3 linked regions of the Homo sapiens genome follow. The protein of the gene in region 3 interacts with the protein of the main gene of each other region in a pairwise test. Each region holds a gene or a part of one and is shown on either strand. Other genes may lie near its edges. The genes, in order: PPP2R5A, MLX and TNNT2.

Region 1 (9,957 bases), about 11 Mb from region 3:
CCTTTCTAGGCATTTCTAGGCCTGAGTATGCAGGCCTCTTTAGGAATTTGATGCTGAGGCCAGGATTAAAATCATTGCAAGGACCTTTCCTACCCTTCAGACCGCTTTGTATGTGCCCTATGATAAAAATTCTACTAATGTGAGTTTGGTATATTTAGAGCTGATCTTTGGTCATTCATAACTACCCTTGACCTCATATAAAGTATTCTGACCTGTTGCTGTGAAGGATTGATAAATGAAGAACATTGTCAGCCTAAAATATTTCCTTCAACCATTGAAGTAGCTCTTCATAAACTATAAAGAAATATTAGGTGTGTATTAACAGTAACATATACATTTTAATCATGACTAAAAATTACATTAAATGGAGTTATGTTATTTTGGTAATTGCAAATGAATGCCTGTTTATTTCCTTGTGCAGCTCTTGTGTGGGATACATTAGGGAGCTCTAGTAATGCCATATGAAATTGTATTTAATACAGTAACAGGTTGAGGGGAACAATTGCCTTAGTGCTTTGTTAGTCTAGAGCTTGAGGTATTTAAGCTGCTGTATTATTTTGTGGTGTGAGGGGAGCAAAAAGAAAACTGGTGGGGCAGGATCTGTTTTCTACCTTCTACTTTAAATGCTTGAATTATCTGAGAAGCTAGGGCCCAGTAATTGCTTTTAGCAGTTTATATGGCTGTTTTGCTCTTGTTGCCCAGGCTGGAGTGCAGTGGCTGGATCTTGGCTCACTGCAACCTCGGCCTCCCAGGTTCAAGCGATTCTCCTGGATCAGCCTCCCAAGTAGCTGGGACTGCAAATGTGCCGACATGCCTGGCTAATTTTTGTTTGTACTTTTAGTAGAGACAGGGTTTTACTGTGTTGGCCAGGCCGGTATCAAATCCCTGACCTCAAGTGATCCGCCTGCCTTGGCCTCCCAAAGTGCTGGGATTACAGTTGAGAGCCACTTTGCCCGGCTGCCATTTTTAATTAGAATAATTTGATGTGAACTTATTAGATATATTAACAAAAATTCTCATACTCCGTAGATATTTTTTGCTGGAGTCTCATGAGGGCCTTAACAGCCTAGCAAACAAAGAATGGAAACTATAAGTATGGCAGTTGTTTTGGGAGATATAAATATGATTTAAGTCATCCACTCTGGTTTCAGATGCATGTGTTAGCAATTGTATATAATTCAAAACAAAATGGAATAAGAACTTCTGATGAGGTTCAGAGCTTGCTATCTTTATTGTAATTATAAACACGAAAGTTCAGAACATAAAATTCCTTGACAGCTTTACAGATACTTGTACTCTAGAGAGAGTATTTTATATTTTTCTAAGAAAATCCAATGTTTAAAATACAGTGTTTTTTTTGACAGAAGAAATTAAGTTTCTTTACCATTTTAAATGGAAATTTGAGATTTTGACTTTAACTTTTTCTAAAGTCTCTTCTCTCAGGTTTTGCTGAAAAGTTGTGCAGAATATAGGAGTACACTGATTGGGCCAATTGAGGTATAGGAGAGTGCTGACTGTGGAACTGGTTTAAAATTTTTCAGCTATTTGCTAAGCTGAAAAATCTATGGGCTGGGCATAGTGGCTCACGCCTATAATCCTGGCACTTTGGGACACCGAGGAGGGTGGATCGCTTGAACTCAGGAGTTTGAGACCAGCCTGGGCAACATGGTGAAACCCCGTCTCTACCAAAAAATATATAAATTAGCTGGGTGTGGTGGCATGTGCCTGTAGTCCCAGCTAGTTGGGAGGCTGAGGCAGGAGGATCTTCTGACCCCAGGAGGTCGAGGCTGCAGTGAGTTGTGATTGCATCACTACCCTCCAGTCTAGGCTACAGAGCAAGACTGTCTTAAAAAAAAAAAAAAAAAAATTTGGCCTCATCTTTTAGTCCAGTGTTATTTTATATATGATTTCTACTCTATTAGTATGTATCTGCCAATATTTTATTCTAATAACTGAATGTTAATTTTTCAAATGTCTGCATGGTAACTGTCTTGAATTTATTGTAAATTCACAAAAAGAAGTCTTAGTATATGTACATCTTTCTAGTAAACTAGAAATATACATTTACACATGGATCTTTTTAAGACTATTTGATGACTTGCAATCTAAAAACTTAAACGATTTTCTATGTAGTTTTGACGATCAAAAAGCATTAAAAATCCCAAATTTTAACACTCCAAAATTGTGAGCCTCTTTAGTATTCAAGAGTAGGATTGAATTTTAAAATCAGTGGGAAGGTAAAGAAAAATCCACTTTTTGAAATATTTATATTTATTGTAAATGTCATATTTTGAAGTGAAATAAGTGAGAAGAAATATTTCCTAAGCTTTTCCTCACCTTCATTACTTAGCAAGAATAAAGTCAGTGTGGTAAGGAAGAACTCTAAAAAATTTTTAAAAGATGTCATGGATAATCTTTAAGATCAAAATTAGAATAAAGCTTTAGCTCGATTATTTTTTAAAAGTAATTTCTCAGGTTTCTTTTAAAGCTCCTGGAGCTTTTTGATAGTGAAGATCCCAGAGAACGTGACTTCCTGAAGACTGTTCTGCACCGAATTTATGGGAAATTTCTTGGATTAAGAGCATTCATCAGAAAACAAATTAACAACATTTTCCTCAGGTAAATTAATCATTTATTGTATATTGCACCTTTTCCTCCTACATATCTTCTTGTATTCAAGTTCTTTTATTTTTATTTGTTTTTTTGAGACAGGGTCTCACTCTGTCATCCAGGCTGGAGTGCAGTGGTGAGAACATAGCTCATTGTAGCCCCCATCTCCCAGACTCAAGCAATCTTCCTCTCTCAGCCTGCCAAGTAGTGAGACTACAGGTGTGCACCACCACGCCTGGGTAATTTTTTTGACTTTTAGTAGAGACAAGGTCTATGTACTGTATGTACGTAGTATATATATGTAACATATATATGTAACATAGTATATATGTGTAACATATATATGTAACGTAGTATATATGTAACATACTATGTATGTTGCCCAGGCTGGTCTTGAACTCCTGAACTCAAGCAGTCCTCTTATATGGGGCCTATCATTTGCTTGTAGTCATCCCTCAGTATCTGGGGAGGATTGATTCCAGGGCCCCTGCTAATAGCAGAATCCAAAGTCCCTTATATAAAATGGCACAGTATTTGCATATAACGTCCACACATCCTCCTGTATACTTTATTTCTAGATTACTTACAATACTTAATACAGTGTGAATGCTGTGCAAATAGATGTTATTCTATATTTTAAATTTGTATTTATTTTTCAAAAATATTTTTGATCTGTAGTTGGTTGAATGCACAGATAATGAAACCTGCGGATACAGGGCCAAGTGTACTTTATAAATATTAATCTGTTAAGTAGTTGCTTCAGATCAGGAGATTTCATAACAACACCCACATTCAAGGTTTGGTTTGTTTAATTAATTGAAGATCTGGCAAAATTTGGTTACTATTCCCACATTGCAACAATTAGAGATGAGTAATATCTGCCTCCTCTAGAGTGAATATCTTTCTCCAGTTCTCTGTCATCACTTCCTAAGCCCATTTCAAATATCTGCCCTATTATATTTATGTCTCCCTGCTTTAAAGGCAGCCCTAATCTTGGAAAGCTATGCAGCCTATATAGTTAGAGGTGTAAAGAAATTCTGATTAAAAATGGCTTTATTACATATGGGTCTTTTTCTCTTGGATTTCCCTATAATTAGAGGTTTCTTATTTTAAAAAGTATTTCTTTGAGGAAACTTATCTTTCTTATTAATTATTAAGTTGAATATTCCAGGTGAAATGACAATCTGTTATCTTCACATATGGCGAGTTTTGGCAAAGGCATATGTAGTTCAGTAGGAAACATCTTCTTTTTTAAGATTGATATGAATTAACTGTTTGGGGCAAAACTGCTTATAAGACCCAAAACATGCTTGTGTGTTTCTAATAGCTGTCCTTTGGATTGATTTCTTCACCCTCCTGCCTGTTTCTCTTAGTTTTCTGAAGTTTGATTTTGATTACATCTTGTCTTTATTTTAAATTCAGGTTTATATATGAAACAGAACATTTCAATGGTGTTGCTGAACTTCTTGAAATATTAGGAAGGTAGGTCAGGTTTTTTTGTTCTTTTTAAGAATTAAGTAAGTGAATGTTTTATGTATTAAAATCTTAGCTGGGGTTGGAGAAATTATGTCATATTTTAGAGTTTAAATGTAGAACACATAGTTTCTCAACTGAAGTCTTTTTTTTTTTTTTGAGACGGAGTTTCGCTCTTGTTGCCCAGGCTGGAGTGCAATGGCGCGTTCTCGGCTCACTGCAACCTCTGCCTCCCGGGTTCAAGAGATTCCCCAGCCTCAGCCTCCTGAGTAGCTGGGATTACAGGTGCCTGCCACCACACCCAACGAATTTTTTAATTTTTATTTTTAGTAGCGATGGGGTTTCACCGTGTTGGCCAGGCTGGTCTTGAACTCCTGACCTCAGGCAATCCACCCCCTTCGGCCTCCCACAGTGCTGGGATTACAGGCGTGAGCCACCATGCCCAGCCTCAGCTGAATTCTTATTACCTTTTGCCATAACACTTTGCCTTCCTTATTCACTACGTATTAGTATTAAGAGAATTTTAGACCCTTCTGTTACTATTTAGACAATGATTTTAGTTTCCTTTATTAATAGTAGAAAATGATTGTGGAGAGAACTACTTCTTTCACGTTATCCAACAAAGTAAGAAAAATTACCCATTTACTTCAGAAAAATATTGAACATTCTAACAATATTGTGGTACTGACTCTCCTGGAGCTTTGGGGGCAAAAATAAAAGCAACAATGCATAAAGTGACAGGTTTGATAGAAAATGAAGATAGAAATTACTTGGGAATTAATTGACAGTCCTAATTTTCTTTTGGAATCATCAAATGACTTAGAGGAACAGACTTCATAGTAATAGTCTTCCTAAAGTAGTTTGAAGATGAGCAGTCATACAACACCAGGATTGAAGCATAGCACTGTTCCTTATGTACTCATGGATATGACAGCTTTTAGAAACAAAGTAGTAACTACTTAACCCTTCCCCTGCCTTTTTTTCCCTCCAGTATTATCAATGGCTTTGCATTGCCACTGAAAGCAGAACATAAACAATTTCTAATGAAGGTTCTTATTCCTATGCATACTGCAAAAGGATTAGCTTTGTTTCATGCTCAGGTAAGTTTCAGAAACATTTCAGATGAAATGAATATTATTTCAAAGGCCAATATAAAGGCAGAGAAATTGAGAAATACTGAGATGACAGTTTTAAGTATAATTAAGCAATTTGCTTACAAAATTACCCAAAGCAAATTTTTCTTATTTTAAAGTATTTAGTTGTTAAGTAAGACCAATTATTTAATTTCTATATCTACACTTACAGTTTAAGATACACACTTTCCTCATATTATAGTCCAGGTCTTGACCTAATTATGTGACTTTGAATAAATCCCACATATCTACAGAATGTTTCTTCCAGCTGCAATAACCTAGACCTAGTTAGAGAGATTTTGGTCTCTTCTATTAATATTTAGAGAATAATATATCAGCATAGGTGTACATGTAGAAACATGCTGAAAAACTAAATTGTTAGCTCTAGTCTTATTTCAGTTAACTTTATAGTCAGAAATTACTACTAAAAATGTTTTTTAAACTTGAAGTTACTTTCAAGGCTAAAAAGTTACACAATTGTGAGTATAGTTTCACGATTGAGGTATTTCACAATTTCATTCACAGTTGTGAGTATATTTTTATATATTGGAATAATTTATCAAAATGAGGTAGTCTAAAAAATATTGGCTAAATATAAAAATCCTACATTATTAAATGTTATCTCACTAATATTTATAAACTGTCCCTTACCTTTTAGCTAGCATATTGTGTTGTACAGTTCCTGGAGAAAGATACAACACTAACAGAGCCAGTAAGTGTTCTATTTATTTTCATGTTTTTGGTCTGCATTAATAGCATTTCATTGTAGCTTTCGTTTTATAGCCTTTATAGTTATTAAGTAGAATAATGTACGTTAAGCTAAAATCATTTAGAAGAAGAAATGTGAGATTAATCTACATTAAAAGAAGGGGTTAGGAGGGGAGAGTTCTCGTGAGTTATGTCTTGAATAACCGAAATATAGACTACTATTAATATGTAGTAGTTAAGATGTACGATGATAGGATCAGATGACCACAGTGAAATTTTATATGCATACTGTCTTCACCAATAATCTTTTAAATCTTCATTCACCTTTTGGAATTAAAGCATACTTCGAGGGTCCCAAAACTACTACTCCCTTGAATTTTGTTTTGTTTTTAATAATAGAATTTTTGCCACTCATTAACAATAAACCACTTGATAGGGATAGAAAACATTTCCTTGCTTTTGGTGATTAAGATATAAGATGTAATCTTGGAATAAAAGTAGTTTATGAACCAGCAAGGCAACTTAGGCTTTGAATTCTACTGTTATTTGCCTCTAGAATGAAAATTCAGGAGAGAGTGAAAACATAATTAGTTATGAAAATTTACTGAGGATTCAAGAAAAACAAAAGATGAAGTAGGGTGAAACAGAAAAGTATAAAAGCATAGAAAACATTTTAACCTTGGTGAAGTAAGTATTTTGAGAGAATGCTTTCTAGGCATGTTCAGTCTAAATATTTACCTAGTATTAGGTTGGTACAAAAGTGATTGCGGCTTTTGCCATTACTTTTAATGGCAAAAACCACAATCACTTTAGCAGCAACCTAATAAATATTTAGTAAATAGCAAAGGGTTTGAAAAACTAAAATATATATGTATTTTTACTATATTATGAACCTTCTCAGGCTATCCGTAGGGATGCTTGAAAAAATCATATACTTAGTATTCTCCCTTTCACTTGAACTTTGTGTAATGGAACAAAAGACATTTTTCCACTCCTTAATTTTTATTAGTTTTTTGACTTTTAGATTTACAGTCTTTTCTAGAAACAGCTGTAAACAGTTTTTGAAGACAATTCAGGAGAATTAGAAACCATATATTTGTACATGAAACCACATAAACCTCTGAAGTTGATTCCCAGGTGTGCAGTGGCTCACAACTGTAATCCCAGCACTTTGGGAGGCTGAGGCAGGCAGATAACTTGAGGCCAGGAGTTTGAGACCAGCCTGGCCAACATGGTGAAACCCTGTCTCTAGTTAAAATACAAAAATTAGCTGGGCATGGTGGCACAGGCCTGTGGTCCCAGCTACTCAGATGGCAAGGGCACAAGAATTGCTTGAATCCAGGAGGCGTAGGTTGCAGTGATCTGAGCTCATACCAGTGCACTCCAGCCTGGGCAACAGAGTGAGACTCTGTCTTCAAAAAAAAAAAGAAAAAAGTAAAACCTTAATACAAATCTATGATAACTCCCATTAGAATTAAGAAAAAGAAAACCCATAATAACACATATTGAAAAGTCATGGTTCATGCTTGGTAAATAGTATACAAATAAAATTTTATTTAATTAATTTGGGGTGGATAAGGAAGACAGGTGATTTATTTTTAAAGAATGGAAGATAGAGGCTGGGCATGGTGGTTCATGCCTGTAATCCCAGCACTTTGGGAGGCCGAGGCAGGCGGATCACCTCAGGTCAGGAGTTCAAGATCAGCCTGATCAACATGGTGAAACCCCATTTCTACTTAAAAAAAAAAAAAAAAAATTAGCTGGGCATGGTGGCGTGTGCCTGTAATCTCAGCTACTAGGGAGGCCGAGGCACAAGAATCACTTGAACCCTGGAGGCGGAGGTTACAGTGAGCCGAGATGACACAAAAAAAAAAACAAAAAAACAAAAAACCTTGACGATTAGGGAGAGGGATGATGGCCAGTTATTCAGCTTTTATCTGGTTTGGCTGAGTTGGGTTAATGAAAATAGGAGCAGGATGAGGAGAGAGAGTAAGATAAATACCCAGGTTAAGAAAGGAAAATATTTTCCAACTCATAAAGATCTCTCGATATAGAGATCTTGCAATTTCTAACATAGGCCATTCCAGCACCAAAATTACGGCCATATTACTTGGGTTTAAGCCTTAATACTAATTTTCTGGAAAGCAGGCATTCCTATCAAAGCTTTCTACAAATTATAAGTAGCTCAGAGCTTTTGTTAGTTTATTACTCAAGCCTGTAATCCCAGCACTTTGGGAGGCTGAGGCAGGCAGATCACCTGAGATCAGGAGTTCAAGACCAGCCTGGCCAACATGATGAAACCCCATCCCTACTAAAAATACAAAAATTAGCCGGGCGTGATGGCGGGCACCTGTAATCCCAGCTACTTGGGAGACTGAGGCAGAATTGCTTGAGGCAGGAGAATGGCTTGAACCCAGGAGGGCAGAGGTTGCAGTGAGCCGAGATCACAGCACTGCACTCCAGCCTGGGCAACAGAGTGAGACTCCGTCTAAAAAGAAAAAAGTGCAGAGTGGAAGAATTAACTAAATATTCATTACAGCTAAGTTTCCATGTAAAGAGGAAAAAAATGAAGAGTCGGCATGACTTTCAAAACTTTTATTTTTTTGGCAGTGTAAACCTTTCCTTCCACTCAAAGCTGCATTTTTATAAAACAAGCAAAACAAAACAAAACACCGTTCTTATTCCAAGAAAATCTAACTTGAGCCCCAAAATAATTTTTTTATTTTTCTTTTTTATTTTATTTTATATTTTATTTTATTATTTTATTTTTATTTTATTTTATATTTTATTTATTTTTTTGAGACAGAGACTCACTCTGTTGCCCAGGCTGGAGTGCAGTCAGTGGCACCATCTCGGCTCACTGCAACCTCCACCTCCTGGGTTCACGCAATTCTTGTTCCTTAGCCTCCTGAGTAGCTGAGATAACAGGCGCCCGATACCACGCCCGGCTAGGTTTTTTTTTGTATTTTTAGTAGAGATGGAGTTTCATCATGTTGCCCAGGCTGGTCTCAAACTCCTAAGATCAGGCAGTGTGCCTTCCTTGGCCTTCCAAAGTGCTAGGATTACAGTTGTAAGCCACTGCACCTGGCCCACATTGACATCTTTTTGGGGGCCACTAGTCAACCCAGTGTTCGTTATTCAATACTGCCCGACATTGAAATTTGTGTATGATGAGGGTAAGGAACTACATTTGGGTTTGTTTGTTTGTGTTTTGGGTTTTTTTTTTTTTCAGACAGGATCTCACCACATCACCCAGGATGGAGTGCAGTAGTACGATTGTGGCTGACGGCAGCCCTGACCTCCCAGGCTCAGGTGATCCTCCTGCCTTAGCCTCCCAAGTAGCTGGGACTACAGGCATGCACCACCATGCCCAGCTAATTTTTTTGTATTTTTGGTAAAGATGAGATGGGGTTTCACCATGATGCCCAGGCTGGTATTGATCTCTTGGGCCCAAGCCTGCCTTGGCCTCCCAAAGTGCTGGGATTAAAGGCCTGAGCCACCATGCCTGGCCTGCATTCATTTTCAATTACGCATATCAAATGATCACAAAATTTATTGGCTTAAAATAGCAAGCATTTATGGCCTTTATCAAAGCTGCAGCTGCTTCCATGTAGCTGCTGTGGTCAAAAAGAAGCCAAGAGTGACAGTTTTCCTTGATGGTCATAGTTCTGTTTGCTGTAACTGATCTGCAAGATTTTGGGAAAATACCATTCCATTGGGAGGAAAAATGACAAGCATTTGTTGCCTTAGTTGCTGTGAATCCAGAATCTGGTCATGGCTTAGGTGGGCCCTCTGCTCAGGGTCTCTTACAAAGCTGCAGTTGGAGTGTTGGCCAGAAGTTGAGTCTCATATAAAGTGTCAGATGGGGAAGGATCTGCTTCTAAGTTCACATGTATGTTGGCAGAATTCAGTTTGTCAAGTTATGTTGGACTGAGAGCCTCAGTTCCTGGCTGGCTGTTGGCCAGAGCCCACCCTCAGATCCTTGTCACCCAGGCTTCTCCAGCATGGCACCTTACTTCATCAAAGCCAAGAC
Region 2 (10,231 bases), on a different chromosome or scaffold from region 3:
ACATCTCATTCACTTGTCTCCCTGTCTCACAGGAGGAAGTTGGGATAGAGACGGATGAAGATTACAACGTCACACTCCCAGACCCCTGAGGGGCCCACGGTCAGGACTGGTGGGGACTGCAGGATGTCAGAAGAGTGAGATGTCTTGCACTGGCTACCTTGTTTTTGGTTGGCTTTTGTTGTTGTTCCTGCTACTTTCACCTTTAAGCAGAGCAGTCAGGAGACAAGCATAAACCAGAGCACTGGGTAGAGAGGATGAGGGCTGGTGGCTGGGGGTAGACCCAGCCCATTTCATTGTCTAAATTGCAGTAGCTTGAGGTTAACATTTAGACTTGGAACAATGCTAAAGGAAAGCATTTGGCAATATTTATTATAATTTAATTTTATATAAAAATATTTAATTTCCTCTGGATAGTCAAACCTGCCAGATATCAAACCTGAGGAAGGCAGAAGTGAATTTGGAGAACTAGGGTAGAGAGAGGTTGCTATAAAACGAGCATTTGGAGGGCCCACGGCTTCACTCAGGACCTGCTGGGCTTGTGTACCCCAGGAGCCCTTTTAAGTATCTTTTGTACGCTTTTCACCCCACCCCCAAGTCCTGGGAGAAATGCAGGCAACACTGAGACATGGGAGAGGCCAAGATATGCTTGACAGAAAGGGTGATTTTGAGGCTCAGTTAATATTTCAAAATTGTAACCGTAGCAAAACTGCATTGGTATTTAGAAAAATAAAAAATTTCCAATATGTAGTGCTGTGTTATACCTGCCTCTGCCATGCAGCATCATAGCCTGTGGGAACCGGGAGGGCTTCCCTTACCACCCAGAGCAGAGGAGGAAGGTGATGGAATATGGGGTGAGGGGAGGAACCTGGTGGCCCCTCCCTGAGATGGCCAGAAAGCCCTTGGCCTCACCTGGGACTGACCAGGCAGCCCTAGTCTAGGCACAAGGTGCCCTTTCACCCTTCATGGCTGTGGGAATATTTCCTCTTACTCTTTTTCTCCCATACAGCTACTGCCAAAATGCCCAAACTTGGGCCAAATGTTGCCCAAACTTGGGCCAAAAATGTTGCCCAAGAGACCAAAACAGAGGAAAACAGTTTCCAAATCTATGTAGATCATGAGCAGAAATCTGAGGCTTGAATAAAGGGCTGAGAGGGCAGGAGCTCTTTGGGGTGTCCAGAGCAGACGCCCATCCCAAGGACTTCCATGGAGTGGGGGGAAGGCTGGGTAGGTTTGAGTTTTATCGTCAATATAATAAATTAATCAGAAGCTTTCACAAAACAAACACCGCGGCTCCGCTGAAGATAAAATGGGGCTGGGAAAAACCAAACACCAAGTAGAAACCAGCTGACCAGTGTGAGGTGTTGTAGTCCAGTCTCCCGGGCCCAGCAGTTCAGTGGCCACGTAGAGATTCAAGGGCCTCTTGTTGGCTGTTCTCCAGGTTTCCAAGAACCGGTCAGTAAAGCTGGTTTTTCAATTGGTGCAGGACGCCAATCACAATCTCCCGCAGGGTCTGGCGAGGGCAGCAGAGGAAGAAATAGACAATGCCCAAGTCAACGCAGAGTAGTTTCCAAGATGCCTGCCTAGATCAGCCATGTACTTTAGAAAAGTGCTTTAAAAATAGCCCCCCGGGGGCCAGGTGTGGTGGCTCACGCCTATAATCCCAGCACTTCGGGAGGCCAAGGCGGGTGGATCACCTGAATTTCAAGACCAGCCTGGCCAACATAGTGAAACCCCGTCTCTACTAAAAATACAAAAATTAGGTGTGGTGGCACATGCCTGTAATCCCAGCTACACAGGAGGCTGAGGTATGAGAATCGCCTGAACCCAGGAGGTGGAAGTTGCAGTGAGCTGACATCACACCACTGCACTCCAGCCTTGGTGACAGAGTGAGACTCCGTCTCAAAAAAAAAAAAAAAAAGCCCCCAGGAAGTACTGATGTCTGCAGTTTAATTTGAGGTGCTCCTGAAGCAAGATGGAGAGATGGAAATATAGTAAAATGTTTCGGTAAAATTTAGGGAGCGGGTATACGAGTGTTCACTGTGAACTCCTCTCAACATCGCAATATGTTTAATGTGTTTCACAATAAAAATGTTGGGAAACGAGGCCAGGCACAGTGGCTCATGCCTGTAATCCCAGCACTTTGGGAGGCCGAGGCGGGTGGATCACAAGGTCAGGAGATCGAGACCATCCTGGCTAACACGGTGAAACCCCGTCTTACTAAAAAATACAAAAAATTGGCCAGGTATGGTGGCACACGCCTGTAGTCCCAGCTACTCGGGAGGCTGAGGCAGGAGAATGGCGTGAACCCGGGAGGCGGAGGTTGCAGTGAGCCGAGATTGTGCCACTGCACTCCAGCCTGGGCGACAGAACGAGACTCCCGTCTCAAAAAAAAAAATGTTGAGAAACAAACAAGAAATCTCAGACACAAGTTTAAAACCTCAGAAAAAGCAACCAGACTTCAATTAGAAGACTTAGTGCAATACCATTAGCACATCTCCATTATAAATAAATTTTTAAAAAGCTCTTGGGGCAACTACTTTAGGGGGCCTAAAGGTAGGGTCCCAGAATTTGCGTTTCCAATTCTGCTGCAGATGCCTGGGGCTTCCATACAGGGGCAGCGATAACATGGGCTAGACAAAAGCCAAGAGCTGGACTTCACATTGAGCTCACGTCACACTTGCCGAATGAAACCGTAACATGAAGATGTGGGTTAGACAGCAAAGAAAAGGGAAAATACCAGGGCCCTCAAAGCTGTAGAAACGCCCTTAAGATCTAAAAGCAGCTGCCACGCTTTTCTCAACAGCTGATGGCTTGGGCCACTTTGCTTGATGGTAGAGAAAACCGCAGACCCTGTGCCTATTGTTGCCCCATACCTGAGGCTTACAGTGCTCCTCGATCCAGCTGAAGACACACGCTGACAGCTCCTGGAAGCTGGCCACTGAGATGGAGGCATTGAAGGACTGGAACAGGGAATCCATGATGCCTTGAAACACGTTGAACTTGACCTGGTCAGAGACCTGGTCCTCCCCTTCATGGGGGTTGTCCTGGTGTGCCTTCACAATCTGCTCATAGTTCCTAAAAGCATGCAGGCCAGGGCTGAGGTGCTGCAGCAGCTCCGCCCACCCAAGAAGAATGACGGGACTATCCTGTGTACTCCCAGGAATGGCAGCCCCAGAGAGCTTCTGGGTGGGGTTCAGTATCAGGGAGATACTGCTTCCAGGTCAGGAAAGGTGGCCCTCTCTCTCCAACCTTCCTTACATTAATCCAACAGGCATTTCCTGAGTGTCTGCCATGTGTAAGGACAGTTGGGGATACACAGTCCTACTGGCTAGCTCAGGAACTAAGAGTATTATCTGTACAGCAGTAACTGATGTGGCCTTTGAACAAGGGAGGGTGTGCAATGAAGTTGCCTCAGAAGTTCTGGTTCCCCCCATTCAGCACCCCTCTTACACTTTCATGATCTTTAGGGCGGTGACATCCTTGCGTAACGTGGACACCTCCTCCTCCTGCTTTTTCTTCTCCTTGTGCAAAAACTGAATGTAGTCAATGGCTAGGGTGGGGGCAAGAAAAAAAGGACAGGTACAGAAGTATTCTCAACCAAGAAGATAAGGCTGACTTTGTTCCCCTTACCCCAGACCCCAACTATCCCATGGCAATCACCACACCAAGGCCGAGCCATGGGTGGGTAGGAGGCACTGGCCTCTTCACAGCCCCGCTTGGCTCCATCCCCTCCAGTGCTTTCCCTAGCCATACTCTTTTGTAGAACGATGGCTTTGCTGAGCTTTTGGGAGCCAATGGAGAAGTCCTGCTGCTGGCAAGTGGGGACGATGGTCTGAAGGTCATCATAGCCTCTCTGTGGAAACAGCAGGGGAAATGGGTTCTTTAACCCTGAGAGATTAAAGCAAAATGGCACAAAGTTCCTCCATGACACCAAGTTCTATGCTCACAAACTCAATGGGGTGGGAAGGCTGCAAGGGAGGTGTTTGTGCCTGGGACTATACTACCTGCCCACCCCCTAGGGTGCCTGGGACTGTCTGAGTGGGTCAGGGCACAGGGAAGCTAAACTATGCAGGGCCCTCCCGCACTGGCTGAGGCACAGGCCTCCCTGTTCACCTTGATGGCGTCCCTCCTCTTCTGCTCAGCCTGAGTGTGTGCGCGCCGCCGCCGGTCTTTGTAGGACTCCTTGTAGGCCTCCTGGTGGTAATCACTGTCCTCATCATCTACGCTCAGAGATGGGGGCAGGGAAAGGTCATCTTGGGGCCCAGTGGGGTCCAGCTAGCCCACCTTTCCCCAGCTGGGAAGAACCTGGTGTCCAGAGAAGGCAGATGGACAGAACCACCTAATGTTCCAGATGAGGTGAAAGATGGTGAGACCTTGTGTCTGATACTTTGGCTCCAGCACCCCTGTGTGGATGGCTGGGGCTTCCCTGTCTAGGAAAGGTACTACAATTATGACATATCTGAGCCCCCCGAGGTCGGGGGGGATGTTACTGCCTACCTGTGTTGGGGACAGAAGAGGCACTGGTGGAACCGATGCTATTAGCTCTGGACACTACACTCCCCTTGCGGGTGCTTTCTACAAAAAGCCCTGGAAAAGAGAGGCCCCAATCACTAAGGGGTGGGGTGGGGAACATTGCCAGACCCTCAGACACCTGTAGGACACAATGGCTTTCTTTTATTTATTTATTTTTTTTTTAGACAGAGTCTCGCTCAGTCGCCCAGGCTAGAGTGCAGTGGCGCGATCTCGGCTCACTGCAAGCTCCGCCTCCCAGGTTCACGCCATTCTCCTGCCTCAGCCTCCCGAGTAGCTGGGACTACAGGCGCCCGCCACCACGCCCGGCTAATTTTTTTGTATTTTTTAGTGGAGACGGGGTTTCACCGTGTTAGCCAGGATGGTCTCGGTCTCCTGACCTCGTGATCCGCCTGCCTCGGCCTCCCAAAGTGCTGGGATTACAGGGGTGAGCCACCGCGCCCGGCCACACAATGGCTTTCTTAAATGCTGACCTCTTCCCTTCAACCCAAAGCCAACCATACTGGGCCCCCCACTTCCTGCCAGACCACGCTGCAGTGCTCTGCTCCCTAGTGTCTACACTGCTCCATAGGCCTGCATGATACCCCCCTGGCTCACAAACGGGCATGTGGACGTGATGAGGGTGTGAGTGATCAGCTGCTCCACTGAGTGGTGAGTGATCAGTTCCACCACTTCCCTGTTCCAGAGCAGAGGGAACTAGGTGTCACCCTCAGTTGTTTTCTGCCCTTGTCCTTCAGCTCCTGCTGTCTCAAGCCAGGAACTCTGCTCAGGGAGAGTGGACTGTGCTCAGGCGTGGTTGGCAACGCCACAAGAATCTAGAGAGCCTGGGCGGGAGTGTCCCTCTAGAGCTTAAGATGGGGCAGCTACTCACCGGGGTCCAGGCTGTTGTCGCTGTAGGCATACTCCACCTGCGGCACAGAGCACGGGAAGGGCCCGTCAGACCTCCGCCCCTAGGGGGAGGCGCCCCTTCCACTGCAGGCACGCACAGCGCGCCCCCCATTCCGGGAAGGCGCCTCTGTCACCCTGCGCGCTTGCACACACACAGCCCGGGGTGCGCGGGCAGCTTAATGAGTCCCCCGAGACTGGCACAGGCTAGGGCGTGCGAGTGCCTCCCCTGTGTATGATCCCTTCCGCCCCTACTCCACCCCAGTGCCCCGTTCCCCCGACTCGCGCGCACACGCCTCGTTTGTCTCCCCACCTTGGCACACGCGGGGTGAGAGCTGTCTTCTCTGCAGCCCCGGGGCACGGAGAGCGTGGGGGACTTTGGGGACAGGAGGGAAGCCCCTCGTCTTCCGGCCCCCCTACGTGCACGAGCCCGACCCGCCCTCCCCTCGCCGGCGTGCGCGCCCACGGGGCTTGCCTTGACCCAAGGGTCCTCGGGAGAGGCGCCCGGCTCCGTCATCTTGTACCCACCGGACCGGAAACGGGCCAGCGGGCGGGCCCCCTGCGGCGAGGAAGCGGGTGGCGTGCCCACGTGACCCGCGCCCGCCAATCCGCGACCGAGAGGTGGGGCAGGGCGAAGCATCGCGCATGCGCAGCCCAAAGACTTTACTCCACGGTTCCAGCCGTCAAGGCCCGGCGCTTGGCCTGGCGCCAGCCTCCTTCGAGACTGCTCCCCGCCGTGCCTGCCCTCCCCGGGTTAGGCAGTGGAATGGCGGCGACATGAAGCGCGTTTTGTAAGATGGAGTCCCCTCAATTGGCTTGTCAGCACACCGCCGCAGATAGTGTGTGCACGCGCACTGTCCGGCCGGCCGGCTCCCCACGTTACCCTGAGGGCGGCCTCCCCGCGCTCACCGGACCTGCACTGCTGGCCGGTGTGTCAGGAACCGGGCAGAGAAGCCCCCAGCCACATCGTCCGACCCCACCAGGCTGCAAGCTCTGTGAGGGCAGAGGCCCCGCCTGGCGCGCGGAAGGCTGATCTTCCAACACCCAGCCCAGTGTCTGGCAGGATGCATGTGGAATGAACCCTTGCAAAGAACCTGCTAGCTAGGTTATGCGGCCTCTCATATTAAAAACAAAACAAAAACAATAAAACACGGCAGTACCTAGAAAGTCTACACCTTACTCAGAAGAACACAGCTGGTCAGTGGGAGGGCCAAAGCTCGCCTCTGGCTAGCCTCAAAGGCCATTCTCTTAACCACTGCATTGCCCAGGCTTCCAGCTCAGGCCTGGGCCCTGCACTTGTGGCTTAAGGATCCCAAAGATACTTAGGGGCATTGGAACAGGAAGCAGACACCATACAAGCAACATCTCAGAACATTCACCTTTAATTCTGTTACAGGTTCCAGTATTTGCGCTGGCCCTAGTCAGCTGTGGGTAAGAGTCACCCATGGGCAAGAGTGGGGAGGGGACTGCTCCCCCATGAACCACATCCTCAGTGTTGGCCAAATACCAGCGTGTTGGGTAGGCTTCCTGTGTCCACCAGGCCTGGCCATGTCCTGCACAGTATAGCTTGGACCTCTGGGCCTGAACCAGGGTGAGCATCAAGGCCCCCATTTCTCCTCACCACGGGGTCGCTTGTCAGCTCCAGGAGCCAGTCTGGCCCCACTGAGAACTTTTCAGTCGAGGGCCTGATGAGTCTTGGGAATGCGCTTCTGCAAGAGGGCCCAGGCTTTCTCCACCTTCAGACAGGCCAGGATGTTGGGAGGAAGAGAGGGCAGGGTCAGGCAGTACCCACTGGAGACTCCTTCCCCACAACCCGGCCTTGCCCTGGGCACCAACCTGGCGTTGGGTGATATGCGGCTCCCACAAGGTGCTGAGCACCACGTGGCTCTGTTCCACAAGCTGCTGCCCGCTCATCTGGCTCTGCAGCCGGCTTTGAGCCGCGGCTTCACTGAGGCCATCCCTCTCCACAATGCGTCTTACAGCCTGAGCACAGACGAGACATTTGTCAGGAAGAATTCCAGCTCACAGGATAGGATCTGCAGTAGGGATGGTGTGGGGGGTGGGGCGAGATACCTCAGTCTCTGGGATGACAGCAGTCCACACCTCATGGACCAGGTTCTGCCAGCCGGCTTCAAGCAACACAGCGGCATCAATCACACACACACGCTTTCCTGTGGGGAGACCCCAGTCACCGCCAGCAGTGCCGACGTTCTCCCAGGCAGAACACAGTCCCAGGGTGAACAGACAGTCCCACGTTGGGCAGGGAAGCTCCCAGGGGAAGAAACAGCTTAACTGTCCCCTTAGCTGTTGCCATCCTCCCTCCCACTCACCCTCAGCCACAGCCCGATCCATCTCCTCTCGGGCCAGCTTTGCGATAATTGGCCACATAATGTCCGTGAGTATCTTCAGCTGCTTCTGGGGAGGGGAACAGAGGGCAGAGGTTACCTTCTCTAGAAGAGGCAGCCAGCCCGAGCAAGGTGGTGTTGGGAACAGATCAATGGAAATGGCATTCTGGGCCAGACCAGAGAGGTCCACTGGACCCTGACCCCTGGGTCTAGTAGCGGCTTAGGAGCCCTTAGGAAGTTATTGTTTACCTTATTCCCAAACACCCGGCTGCCTAGGACCTTCCTGTTGATGATGCCATCTTTATGGAGAATATCTGGACAACACAGACAGACAACTGAGCACAGAGGCCTGGCTAGCTCCTCACTCCAGGCCACTTTCAGCCTTCCCCAGTTATTACCTGTTCCAAAGGCCTCCACCACAGGCTGGTAGGCAGGGCCACCTGGGGCATAGGCCCGATGACCCAGGTGGTCACTGTCAATGACAAACGCCCCCAGGCCCTTCAGTCGCTGAGCTATTGAGCTCTTCCCAGAGCCACTGATGCCAGTCAGCCCAATTACATAGAGACATGTGGGGAGCTCTGGCCTTTCCTGGGGATAGGTGAAAGGGAACCCACAGTTACTGGGGCCCTCAGCCTCATGCCTGGGGCTGAGCCCCTCAGCTTCTACTCTCCAGCATTGCCAGGACACCAAGCAGGAGGGAAGGAGGGAGAGGAGCTTACATATGGAGGCCGAAGCAGGTTCCCCAACATTCGCTGGCGGAAGCTGGAGGAGCTGACTTTGTCCTCTTCATTCTCTGTATGTCTGAGGTCCTTCAGCAGCTGGATCTGGTACAAAGCAAGTTCCTCCAGGTCCTGGGGTAAAGAGGAAAGGGTAAAAAGAGGGAAGGAGGGAGTGAGAGGAAGACCCTGACATCCAACCTGCCCCCCCATCCTCCCCTTCCTACCCAGGCTCCTCCTCCTCCGACTCAGCGGGCAAACTGAGAACCAGTTCCTCCTTGCTTCTTCCCACCACCCTGAGCCCCCACTTCTCTCCTCTGGGGCCATGGTACTTCCAACAGCCCCCTCAAAATGGCCTTCCCCGTCCCCCATCCACTCCCTCTGCCAGTCTCCCTCAGGGGTTACATTCTCAAGGCGGAAGCGGTTGATGGCCATCCCCCCACGATAGGTCTCCTCGCTGACCACCAGGAACTCCAGGGAGGGGTCAGAGCCAGCGGGCCCATAGGGGTCCAGCAGGGGGATGACATCAAAAGTCAAGGAGGGCTTGATGTCCACCAGGAATTCACTCAGATGTTCCACACGTTCTGTATAAGGTTGGAGCAGCTCAGGGAGCAACTTGCCTGGGGAAGGAGCCCAGAAGAACAGTGAGATCTTTTTATTGGGGAGGAGAGTATGGGCCAGTTTGGGAAAAAGTGTCCCTAAGTACAGTATCCCCAGAGGGGGTGGCAGAAAGGGTTCAACTGGTAAGGCCTATGGTGATGGTGAGGGGAGCATGAAGGTGAAGAAACAGGCAAGCACAATAGTCACTCCAAGGGCTGGCATGTGTCCAGAGAATAAGCCACCAGGAAACCACTCCAGAGAACGAGCAGTGCCAGAGGGCATCAGAGGCAGATGGAAAATTCCAAGACCCATGCCATGCTTGAGTTTCCTCCTCCTGTCTGTGGCACTGCTACCTGCAGCTCACTCACCCATTCATTCCCAGTGTCTCATTAGGGTGTATCACCTGGAAAACTTGCTAAAATGCAGATCCCTTTGCTTCACATTTGGGGTATTCTGATTGAGTGGTGACTGGACCACATGCTGAGAAAGCTGTTCATTTGACAAAATGGCCTTAGCACCAATTGAGTGTCAACCACTGTGACATTTGGGAAGGGTGGGAAGTAATGAATGGCCCTACCCTTCCTTGATCTCGGCATAAGGGTCGGGGGTGGGGAGATTTGGGGATCCTCCACCCTAGTCCAGGGTCCCTCTTACTCACTCTTCAACAGATCTTTGTCTGCTACTCCCACCACAAGCTGCTCCTGGGCCAGGATGCACGCGACACTGAGCAACACCTTGTGGGCGTTGTGCAGGCGGTCAAACGTGCCACCGACAGCGCCACGGTAGTAGCCACGCACCGGCTGCTTTGGAGACCCGGCCACGGGGGAAGCTGGCCTGATCGTGGAGGGTAAGGGGACATCCAGGGGCTCCACGGGCACTTCTCCTATCCCATAATCGGAGTATAGCAGCACCGAGGCCAGTCGCGGACAACAGCTGTAACAGCTGGTGGCGTAACGCACTAGCTGCTGTTTGACCGGGTTGTACTGGCTTCCATCCAGGGTCTGGAAATCTGTCAACACGACTTCTGGCGGGTGGGCGAGATTCTGGACTGAGGTGGGCAGGGGAGGGAGAAAGGTGCTCTTGGTTCGGATATTGGTCAGTAGGATTCTGACGTCCAAGTGCCTGTGGACGTCGGCGCCAGCATAGAGGTGCGTG
Region 3 (10,116 bases):
TGGTGTTCTTGGTTCCCAGAGATCAGAATCTGTCAAGTCTCGGGGTCTGCCTTGCACTGAGTTATTCGTGGCTCCTGTGGGTGTAGCCAGCAAGCGCCACCTCTTTGAGAAGGAACTGGCGGGCCAGAGCCGAGCAGAACCAGCCTCCAGCCGGAAGGTGAGGGGCTCAGGCCCCACAGGGTCCTTAGGGTGATTAGCCCTGACGTCTCCAAAACCCAAATCTTGGCTGTGGCAATGCTAGAAAACTGTTTTCATGTGTCAATTAATGTTGGCAGAACCTCCATTTGAGTTCCCATTCACGTTCCTGAGCCCATCTCCTTAGCTGGGCACACAGCTCCCTGGGGGAAGGGGAGGGGGCTGTCCCAGGTATATGTGGCATGTGCTGGATGCATAGGGGAGTGAGGGAGAGTCCTATCCCATTCCAGGGCCTCTGAACATGCCTCGCTGCTGCCAAGGGCCCTAAACCCTGAGATGGAAAGTTCTCTTTTTAGGAGAACTTGAGGCTCTCAGGGGTTGTGACATCAAGGCTCAACCTGTGGATCAGCAGGACCCAGGAATCTGGAGATCAGGACCCCCAGGTATCCTCACCCTCCCTGATGTCTCTTACTGTGGAGCCTTTGTGGTGGGATGACTGGGGACAGAGGAGGGACAGTCGGGAGAGGAGGAGTCATTTCGGGAGAGGAGGAGTCATTTCGGGAGAGGAGGAGTCATTTCAGGAGTGGAGGCAGTCGGGAATAGATGGGTGTGTGGGTCAGACTCTGGCAGAGAGGAGGGGTGGGTCTGGGTTCCTTTTCTCTTTTGGGAAGAGAAAGGACATCCTGGGCTGGGAGCTGGGCCTGGGGTATCCCGAGCCCTTTGGAGCCTGGTCTTAGTCTCTGGTCTCCACCCTGATACCCTCAATCAGGAGGCACAGAAAGCATCATCTGCAACCGAGAGGACTCAGTGGGGACAGAAATCTGACTCCTCGCTGGACGCTGAGGTGAATGGTGGGGAGGAGCCTGGCCCTACGGCGGAGGGCCACGGTGTACTGTGGGAGACCCCATCGTCCCCGTGTGCACACACTAATTGGCCTGCAATCGCGCAGTCCACCCAGAACGCCCCCATCCCTGCTCATGCAGATTGGTCTGAGCCAACCGTGAGAACAAGGTTGAGCCCTCACCTGGTTGTGCTGCCTGCAGCTCTGCAGAGCCCCTCCCTCTTCAGCTGGCAGATTACAGGGCTCTGACTCCTTGTGGGTGTGGGGCTTGGGCAAAGGGATGCCTTCCTATCCAGTGGCCCCCTTCCCCTTCCATCCCTGACACCCCATTGACTTGTGCTAACAGCTCTTTGCCCCACAGGTGTGACAAGCCCCGCCAAGACAGACCTGCAAGTCTTCGTCTCAAGGGACCTCCCTCATGCCAGGCCCCTGCCTCTCACAGCAGCACCCTTTCCTCTCATTGTCCCTGTTCCCTTTTTGCCTGTGGATCTGTTTGGCCAGGGTCCCTGGGGTCAGGAATATTTGCAAGACTCAGCCAGCTCCTTCCCAGCCCAGCCTCTTGGGGCTGGGACTTTCTCACCCTGCGGCAGGCACAACAGATGCTGGGACCCAGTCTCTGCCCAGGTCACAGCACAAGTGCACATCAGCACTATGGGGCCTATGTCCTGCCCAGAGACCTCTGCTCCTTCCTGCTCACATCCACAGTCAGGGCACGGCGCCCCTCAAGAACTCCAGAGTCACCTGTCTCATCGGCTCCCAGCAAGTGCCTCTTTGTCTATGATGTCCCCCTTCTCTGAGGCCTGGACCCACCCATCTTTGTCCCTGGGGCCTGCTCCCAGCCACTGAGGCCCGCTCTGGCCAGGGGAGAAGGAGCTGCCGTGCGTCTTCCCTGTGCCCCGTCTCCCTGCTTGGTTCTCCCCTCCCTTCCCTGGCCGGCTGCCATGGCCAGGAGCTAAGTGCCTTTTTGTGTGCAACCACTTACCCTTTCTCTGAAAAACCTGTTCTCAGGAAGGATCTGATAAACTCATTTACTCTCAGGTGTAAGAGACTGATGAGACCTTAGAAGCGAATTCCTCTCTGGAGGCCTTGCTTTCTAGCAGAGGTCACCTGAAGTGTGTGAGGAGGATCATCATTTTCCTCATCCCCCCTCTTCTCACATTAAGGTGGTGGCTTGCCACTCAGCAGTCCTAGCTTGGTGACTGGGAACTGCCACATACAGGGCCAGGCCTACCCTCCTTCCCCACAAGCCCCCTCCAACCCCCACCCCCATGCTCTGGACCTCATGGCTCCTATGAGCTTGGAGCATGGTGAACCATCAGAGAATCTAGAACCAACCAAGCTAGGAACATCAGCCTGGTGCCCTGTTAACCCCTTAAAGCTGTGGTTTACAACTTTTCAAAAATTTAAATCATTAGAACTCTCCATCTTGATTGACTGCCCTAGTTTTACCCAGAATCAGCTGGGGATGTGGCCAGGTGCAGAGCCCCCTGCCCATTCCCCCTTTGCATGCCTGGGGAAGCTCCAGGTCTTTTTGGAACACGACCCTTAACACGGCTCCTAAGGGGGTATCACCAGTCCAGTTCCCCAAGTGTGTGGGGGATGAGCCCTAGCCCTACTCTGTGACTCTGGGTGAGGGCTCCTCAGATCTGTGCCCCAGGGGACAGGCCCTCAAAGTGCCATCCGTGCTCAGGTCCCAGTGCCCCAGGCTGACCCACCTCTGGTCAGTGAGTCTCCTGTGCCTGAGTGAGGGATATCGGGACCTGGGGTCCCTGCCCCGAGCACCTCCCACCCACTGCTAGTGCTGGGGCTTTGTGAGTGTTCCAACTTCATAGCCGAGAGTTGGAGGACAAGGCTGGGGCAGGGCCGAGGAACGGATTGAGTCCTGCCTAAGCCTCGGGACATCTAAACAGCTCTGGCTCTGCCCAGACCTCAGGTGTGACCCTGAGCCATTTTCCTTCTCTGAACTTCAAGCAGATGACCTCAGAGAACTTTCATATGTTCATGCCATGATAGGTGAACTTTTCCAGTAAACAAAACTGTCCCCACACAGAGGAGAGGCTCCTGGAGGCCTTCACCTGGCAGGGCCTGACCGTGGAGTAAGAGCCTAGGAAGACACTGAGGGGCCTGTTCCTGCAGCTGCAGCCTCAGCAGGGCCCTTCATGCCTGCACCCCCCTCCCCTGGGGTGCCCAGTGAGGGCTGACTGCTAGGGGAAATGTCGGGGTGCTACAGCACAGCCCCCTCCCCTGTGAATCCAGCACGTGAGGGCCCTGCCCTCGTTCCTACTGGGGACGCAGCCAGTAAACAAGGAGACCAGGGTGTGCCCAAGATGACCTCAGCTGGGGATAGATGAGTGGTAGCGACTGGGTGTCCAGGCGGGTGGGGAGGCCTCTGGATGGGTGACATTGGGCACCTTCTGGAGACAGAACAGGGCTCCCACACACCACTCCGGGCTGCACCCTCCTGCTGTCTTGCCACAGGGGCCCTGTGCCCCACAAGTGGCCCGTCCTATTGTGGATCCTCAAATTTACATGCACTGTTTCAGCATAAGCCTCCCATTCCACTCTGGCTTTGTTTTCTCTTTACATCCCTTTGAAAGGACAGGGATATAAAAAAAAAATGGGCTAAGAGTAACCCTACTATGCCCAGGAGTGGCTGCTGCATGGGGGCTGGATTTCCTTATCTGAGAGGCTGTCTCACAGCGCTCTGAACGAAGCTCCTGCCTTAGAACAATTCGAAGCCATACACGTGTGGCCTGTGACACCAAGGATCTACTGGGCTTTTCCCATGGGGCTCAGTAGTGACCTAGGTGCCCAGATCCCTCTTCTAGGCATCCATGCAAATAAACCGTGGTCTGTTTGAAAGGTTATTGGGCTTACAAGGAACAGTAACCCACCCTCAAGTTAAAAAAGGGTTTGGGAAAAGTAATTCCGAATTCTACGTTACTCCAGGCCAGGACCCAAGGCAAGGCTGGGCCCTGCTTCGTGGGCTAGAATGGGAGAGAGAGATGATGGGGCTCCCCCCACTTTCTTGACAGCCTGACTCCTTCCTCACTATCCCTCGGGAATCTGTCCCCTCCATCTGCCTGTCTCTCTACAAAGTGCCCCTGCTTCCCTGTGGTGGTCCTCAGTCCCACAATGCTGGCCAGCGGGCGGTTGGCTTCAGCTTGCCCTGCCACAGATGTGCTGGCAGTGTGGAGGCCCACGTGGCAGGGCAATCAAGGCCACTGGACTCAGAGGCCACAGGGAACTATGGAGGGGATGGAGTCAGCTGAGTGATGGGACAAGAGTCTGACAGCAGCATGGGTGTGGAGCAAATGGCAGTCCCCTGCGCAGAGGACCCTTTCAAGGACATTAGTGGTGGAGGCAGCATAGTAGCTCCCAAGGCAGAGGGATTGAGAGAAGAGTTTGAGGACTGGGAAGGCGGGACACATGATTGGGTGATGGGAGAAGGGGGCAGAGAATAGCGAGATTGCTTTCTTTGCCCACGGAGAAACAGAGGAGTGTGGATCATGAATGGGCAAGATCTTTAAGTGCCAGGGGGGGTCATGGAGGAGGGGAGGGCCTGCTCCAGAGGAGGACCATTCCTGCTTCAGAGCCAAGCAGGACCTAGGCTGTGAAGATTCGGAGAAAGAGATGGAGGGGAGAGTCAGCTCAGCTGCTTACTGGCTTGCTTTCCTCCTGTCTCTTTCATTTTCATAATCTACCAAACCCTGCAATGGGCCAGCCTTGAACATACAAGTGCATGTGCATGGTCAGACACAGGCAAGCAAGCAAGACCCCTAGGCCTGACCTATGCATCTGCAATCTAGTAGGTTTAGCAGATCATAGCCCCGCACTGCTTGATTTTAAAGCCGTTAGGGGATGACCTTTGACAGTCCGCATCACCCCTCTCACACAACGAGCGCCTGTTCAAGGTTCTTGACTGGAAGTTCTACCTTGTATCTGGCCTCCTGTAGCAGTTTCAGTCCATTCCCTGTGAGGAGGGTGTGCCACATGGCTTTGGGGGTCATGGAGAAGACCCACCTTGCAGATGTCCTCACTGGGGCTGGCAGAGCCGGCAACCTGCCTAAGGCTGCTCAGTCCATTAGGAGCCAGTAGCCTGGAAGATGTCTTTACCCCCAGCATCAGTTCAAGTGGAGCAGCACATAACTCTTGCCCTCTGCCTTCCAAGATTCTGGTGCTGAGACTTATGGAGTGTCTTGGAGGTTGCCTTCTGCCCCCCAACCCTGCTCCCAGCTGGCCCTCCCAGGCCTGGGTTGCTGGCCTCTGCTTTATCAGGATTCTCAAGAGGGACAGCTGGTTTATGTTGCATGACTGTTCCCTGCATATCTGCTCTGGTTTTAAATAGCTTATCTGAGCAGCTGGAGGACCACATGGGCTTATATGGCGTGGGGTACATGTTCCTGTAGCCTTGTCCCTGGCACCTGCCAAAATAGCAGCCAACACCCCCCACCCCCACCGCCATCCCCCTGCCCCACCCGTCCCCTGTCGCACATTCCTCCCTCCGCAGGGCTGGCTCACCAGGCCCCAGCCCACATGCCTGCTTAAAGCCCTCTCCATCCTCTGCCTCACCCAGTCCCCGCTGAGACTGAGCAGACGCCTCCAGGATCTGTCGGCAGCTGCTGTTCTGAGGTAAGGCTCGGGCAGGGCTCTGGGGAAGAGGAGAGCAGAGAATGGACGGGGAGATGTGAGGGTCTTGGGCCCTGGCATATTTACCCAGAGTCTGCCTGTGTCCGCAGAAGTCCATGGCCCCTCCTGGTGGAGGCCACACTTCAGAGGACAGGTTGCCAGGTCTGGGCTCCAAGATTGGTACAATAGAGCAGAGAGAAAGAGAGAATCCCATGGTAGCCATTGGAGACTAGGGTTGGAGTCCTGGACCTGCCACTAAAGATGTAGAGTTTAAACTCTTGGATGAGTCACTTTCCCTCCCCAGGCCTCAGTTTTCTCATCTGTAGAGTGGGCTAAATATTTGCTAGGCCTCTGCCTGCTCTAAATACAATGAGGCTCTAACCAACAGAGACTCCCCTAAATTGCTTGTTCCAGGCCGAGGGTCACCTATACCTTTCCAGTCAGGTCCTTCTTGAGTCCCAGGGAGCAGAGCGAGACTGCAGCCCTGTCAGTCAAGTGAGTCTCCTGGTCATATTCTCAAGGCTAGGAACTCAGAAACTGTCCTGGAAGTACTGAGAACGACCAGATGTGCAGGGTCCTCTGCAGCGCCTCTCCAGGCCAACGCGGGAATTCCATTTGATGCCGCTGACTCAGTGCCATTCCCTCCCAGAGCTGAGCTGAGCTCCCAGACCCTGAGCTGAGCTGCACTTGGGGGGCAGATGGGGAAAGGCCCCACTGGGAGAACCTGTCCTTGGGTGTGAGCCCAGCTGGTTGGCATTAAAGGGTTTAACCTGGGCCCCCGTAAGTGTAACCCTTGTCCCATCCCACCCCAACACCCCATCTTGGGACAAGCCTTGCTCTGTGCCCAGGAGTGGTAGAGAAAGATTCCCTTGGTTTCTAGTTTCTCCTGGGCAGGCTGAGGACTATTCAGGGAGGGGGTTGCCTGGTGTGTAAGGAATTTCAGAGCACATTCCTGGCCTGCTGTAGCCGGGAAGCTACCTGCCCTCCCAAATTCCTTTTCTGACCCATGTCTTAGAGGGCGAATCTTCCTTCTCTCTGCAAAAGTGGAATCTGAGAGGATCAGGTTGCTGGCTGCCTCCTATTTCTGACCCCCACTTCCACTCTTCCTGCCCTCTCCCCATCCCCTTACCCCCGCTCTCCTGGTGGGCTAACAGCTGTTGGCTTAGGAAAATCCCATTCGAGTGCTGGGGACAAGGACTGAGGGGTGGGGCCTGTGTTTCTCAGAAACTCGGAGACTGTTTCTACAGGGACAGAACTCAAGGCTCTCCTGCTTTGTAGTTGGTTAACTGAAGTCAGAGAGGCTAGGTGACTTAAATAAGGCCACACAGCAAAATCTGGGTTTTAAGCCCAGATTTTTTGACCCCAAGGTCAGTATGCCTTATGCCTTCTATTGTCTTTGCTTTACTCCCCAAGAAAGGTGACCCTGTGAACGTGTTAGGCTTCCAACACGTGTTGGCTATGAATGCATTAGGCTAGAAAGCTGCCTGTGGAAGTGGGTGGGACTTGGGTGTGAGGACACAGGTGTTTCAGGACATTCTGGTTCCTTGCCCTGCCAGGTTCTTGACTCTCTCCCATTCTGCAGCCCCCAGTCTCAGCCCACCTCTTTCCCCTGCATCAGGTCCTGCCTTTGAGCCACTGGCATGGTGGTGTCCTCTGGGCTGGCTGAAAGCCCTCCTCCATCCTGCATGTCTGCATGCTATTTTTGGGAGCTGGATGGTGCCCCCAGGAACAGGGAGAGGAGTCCAAGCTGCTCTGTCCTCCTGTGAGGCCCCAGCACCATGCCCAGTGGCTCTGAACTGGTGGAAGGGCAGAGTAGGAGAGGAGAGAGAAAGCTAGAAGCTATGCGCCCAGGCTGGCCATGCACGGTTCCTCTGAGAATTTTCTCCCTCCCACTGAGGGACAAGCTTCTCCTGGGGCTCAGGTAGGAGCTCCTCAAGTTCTCAAGTCACTAGTTCTGGCCGCTCCCCTGGGGCTTTGGGTAACAATTGTCAGCCCCACCCATCCTAGGGTTAGGAAGGCTATTCTCTTTGGCCACTCTCATCCTAAGACCTATTTGGAGAACCTCTGGGGTTTGAGTCTTTTTTTCAGCAGAATGAGGCTTGATCCCGCATTATAGCACCTCGCACATTTGATGTCTCTTCTTCTCACCCACTCACCCCACCCTGGGGGTTGGGGCAAAAAAGTGGCTCAGAGCTGCGGTTCAGAGCTCCTTGTAAACAAGGCTCCTCCCTCACTGTCCTCACCCTGCTCCAGCAGAGGGAGCAGCGGAAGGACCACTCTGCTGCAGCCATGCTTGTTTCTAACCCAGCAGAACTGGACATAATGGGAACAGGGTCTGAAGACAATCAATCCAGGGCTGCAGTGGGTGCTGAGTCTGGGGAAGCCTCCACCTGGAGGGGCAGCTGGGCAGTGGCAGCTCCCTTGGAATGGCTCAGCCTCTGGACATCACCCCACCCAACCAGAGCCCTGGCTCTTGCTGGATGTCCACAGATGAGTGCCTGGGATTGGTCTCAGCCACTATGGGGGGGATGTGCAGGGAGAGGTGATGAGGGAGTGAGCAGGACTGTCTATGTGCCTCTGTCCTCATCCTGAGGCTTGGGTCTGAAATTGGTGCTGCAGCACTGGCACGCGTGAGTGGGGCAGGAGGTGGGCAGCAGGGGAGGAGCATTGGAGGGTGGTCCTGAGCATCATTTGGATTCTTCTCCCGCCTCACTTTAGCCTCACTCTCACATCACCCTGTCCATTCTCTCCCTTGGAAGCCAACATCAGGAAGGCTGTGGAGCTGGCATATTGCACTATAACAGAGGCTGCTGTTCACGTTTCAAACAACGTGATTGTGTCCCTGGAGCAGTGCACTGTCATGGCCCCGGAGGGTTGGGTCATAGTAGTTATTAGCTGAATGCCTACACTTCACACTACCTCTGTTCCTCACACCTACCCAAGAAGAGCAGTAATTTCACAGCAAAGAGAGCTGAGATGTGGGGAGGTTAAGTGACCTTGCCAAGGTCGCAGGCAAACGCATGCTGGAGCCAGCATTCAAAACGAGATTAGTCTCACACTCAAGTGCTTGCTCTCTGCCCCCTCCCTGTGATTACATGCTCATTGTAACACCTGATGTTGCCTAATGCCTTCCCCTTTTGTTAATGTCAACTGGAGCCTCGTAAAGACCCTGAGTAGCCAGGATGTGTACACTTTATCTCCATGAGACAGAGAAAGGACTGAGGTTTGGAGATGTTAAAAAGACTCGCCTAAACACCCTCGGCAAGCTAATGGAAGAGGATCTGAATCTAGATTATCTGTTCCCAGTGCAGTGAGAAGATGATCTCAGAATGAGTTCCCTGGGGGAACATTTTTTAATCGGAATTTTCATTGACATAATTAAAGACTAGTACACAGTTGTCTTTAATAACGAGCGTTTACACACGGTGCCTAGTTTCTCCCGAGGGCAACATTTGCAAAATTAGTACTATATCAAAACCAAGATTGGACATCAATACAATCAATCTATGATCTTATTCAGATTTGCCCACAATTGCACCATGTGTATGTGAAACTCTAAACAACTTTAACCTGTGGAGGTTCACGTATCCATCACCACAGTCTACATACTGAAAAGATCCCAAACCACAAGGATCCCCGCTGTGTGCTTTGATTTATTTATTTAGAGACAAGTTCTCACTCATTTGTCCAGGCCAGTCTCTTGGGGTGCCCAAAGACCTTTTGTCCAGGTCTCACTTTTGTCCAGCACACATGGAATGGGTGTGGTGGCTCACGCCTGTAATCTCAGCACTTCGAGAGGCTGAGGCAGGAGGATCCCTTGAGCCTGGGAGTTCGAAACAGCCTGGGCAATGTGGCAAAATCCCAGCTTTACTAAAAATACAAAAATTAGTCGGGCATGGTGGTGCACAACTATAGTCCCAGCAACTCAGGAGGCTGAGGTGGGAGAATCGCTTGAGCCCAGAAGGTTGAGGCTGCAGTGAGGCTTTGTGCAGTGAAGATTTGTACAGTGCTGAACAGATCCTGTGGAGTGGGGGTGGGCAGAGTGGATGGAAAGGTTGAGAAACTGCAGACATTGTCTTGAGTGTCACAAATGGAAATGCAGCATCCCAGGCAGTATTGCCTGTTCAGGGGCAAGGAACGAAGTGGACATCAGCAGGTGGCCTTGCTGCCATGTGGGTGTCACTATCTCCCCCAGCAGGGGAGAAAACAGGCTTTTTGTTGCAGGTCACACAGCTCATGAGGGGTGGAACTAGATTCACCCTAGGCCTCGCTGATCTCTGTACAACGGGGGCCAGAGCTCTTCTGAGGAAGGCAGGCTTCCCTTTGTACCTGCACTGACTTTTTTCTCCTTTTGGAGGGAGAGCAGAGACCATGTCTGACATAGAAGAGGTGGTGGAAGAGTACGAGGAGGAGTGAGTATCTGGAGCATCTTGCCTGAGTGGGGTCCTCTCCCGCCGCTGCCCTGACACCTGGTCCAGGAGCCTCCCAGCTGTCCCTCGGATTCTGGGTAG

What was found.
Region 1: the proteins of TNNT2 (region 3) and PPP2R5A interact in binary tests that used the Homo sapiens proteins (3 or more experiments, as listed by UniProt).
Region 2: the proteins of TNNT2 (region 3) and MLX interact in binary tests that used the Homo sapiens proteins (3 or more experiments, as listed by UniProt).

What each region holds. Positions count from the first base shown.
Region 1 is NC_000001.11:212,343,315-212,353,271, forward strand, and holds part of PPP2R5A (serine/threonine-protein phosphatase 2A 56 kDa regulatory subunit alpha isoform), read left to right. Parts: intron 1-2,488; coding exon 2,489-2,619; intron 2,620-4,032; coding exon 4,033-4,092; intron 4,093-5,074; coding exon 5,075-5,183; intron 5,184-5,874; coding exon 5,875-5,928; intron 5,929-9,503; exon of another isoform or gene 9,504-9,636; intron 9,637-9,957. UniProt on the Homo sapiens protein: The B regulatory subunit might modulate substrate selectivity and catalytic activity, and might also direct the localization of the catalytic enzyme to a particular subcellular compartment.
Region 2 is NC_000017.11:42,562,826-42,573,056, reverse strand, and holds the start of MLX (max-like protein X), read right to left. Parts: upstream 5,958-10,231; 5' UTR 5,933-5,957; coding exon 5,891-5,932; coding exon of another isoform or gene 5,729-5,890; intron 5,439-5,728; coding exon 5,402-5,438; intron 4,588-5,401; coding exon 4,498-4,587; intron 4,221-4,497; coding exon 4,114-4,220; intron 3,854-4,113; coding exon 3,754-3,853; intron 3,551-3,753; coding exon 3,451-3,550; intron 3,076-3,450; coding exon 2,874-3,075; intron 1,511-2,873; coding exon 1,454-1,510; 3' UTR 90-1,453; coding exon of another isoform or gene 33-89; 3' UTR 1-32. Other genes in the region: PSMC3IP (homologous-pairing protein 2 homolog), read left to right, coding at 33-89; COASY (bifunctional coenzyme A synthase), read right to left, coding at 7,089-7,151, 7,252-7,398, 7,489-7,586, 7,746-7,830, 8,010-8,074, 8,159-8,348, 8,480-8,611, 8,882-9,096 and 1 more. UniProt on the Homo sapiens protein: Transcription regulator. Forms a sequence-specific DNA-binding protein complex with MAD1, MAD4, MNT, WBSCR14 and MLXIP which recognizes the core sequence 5'-CACGTG-3'. The TCFL4-MAD1, TCFL4-MAD4, TCFL4-WBSCR14 complexes are transcriptional repressors.
Region 3 is NC_000001.11:201,373,115-201,383,230, reverse strand, and holds the start of TNNT2 (troponin T, cardiac muscle), read left to right. Parts: upstream 1-5,550; 5' UTR 5,551-5,608; intron 5,609-9,829; exon of another isoform or gene 9,830-9,962; 5' UTR 9,963-9,976; coding exon 9,977-10,017; exon of another isoform or gene 10,018-10,112; intron 10,113-10,116. Other genes in the region: LAD1 (ladinin-1), read left to right, coding at 20-157, 492-578, 905-979, 1,338-1,343. UniProt on the Homo sapiens protein: Troponin T is the tropomyosin-binding subunit of troponin, the thin filament regulatory complex which confers calcium-sensitivity to striated muscle actomyosin ATPase activity.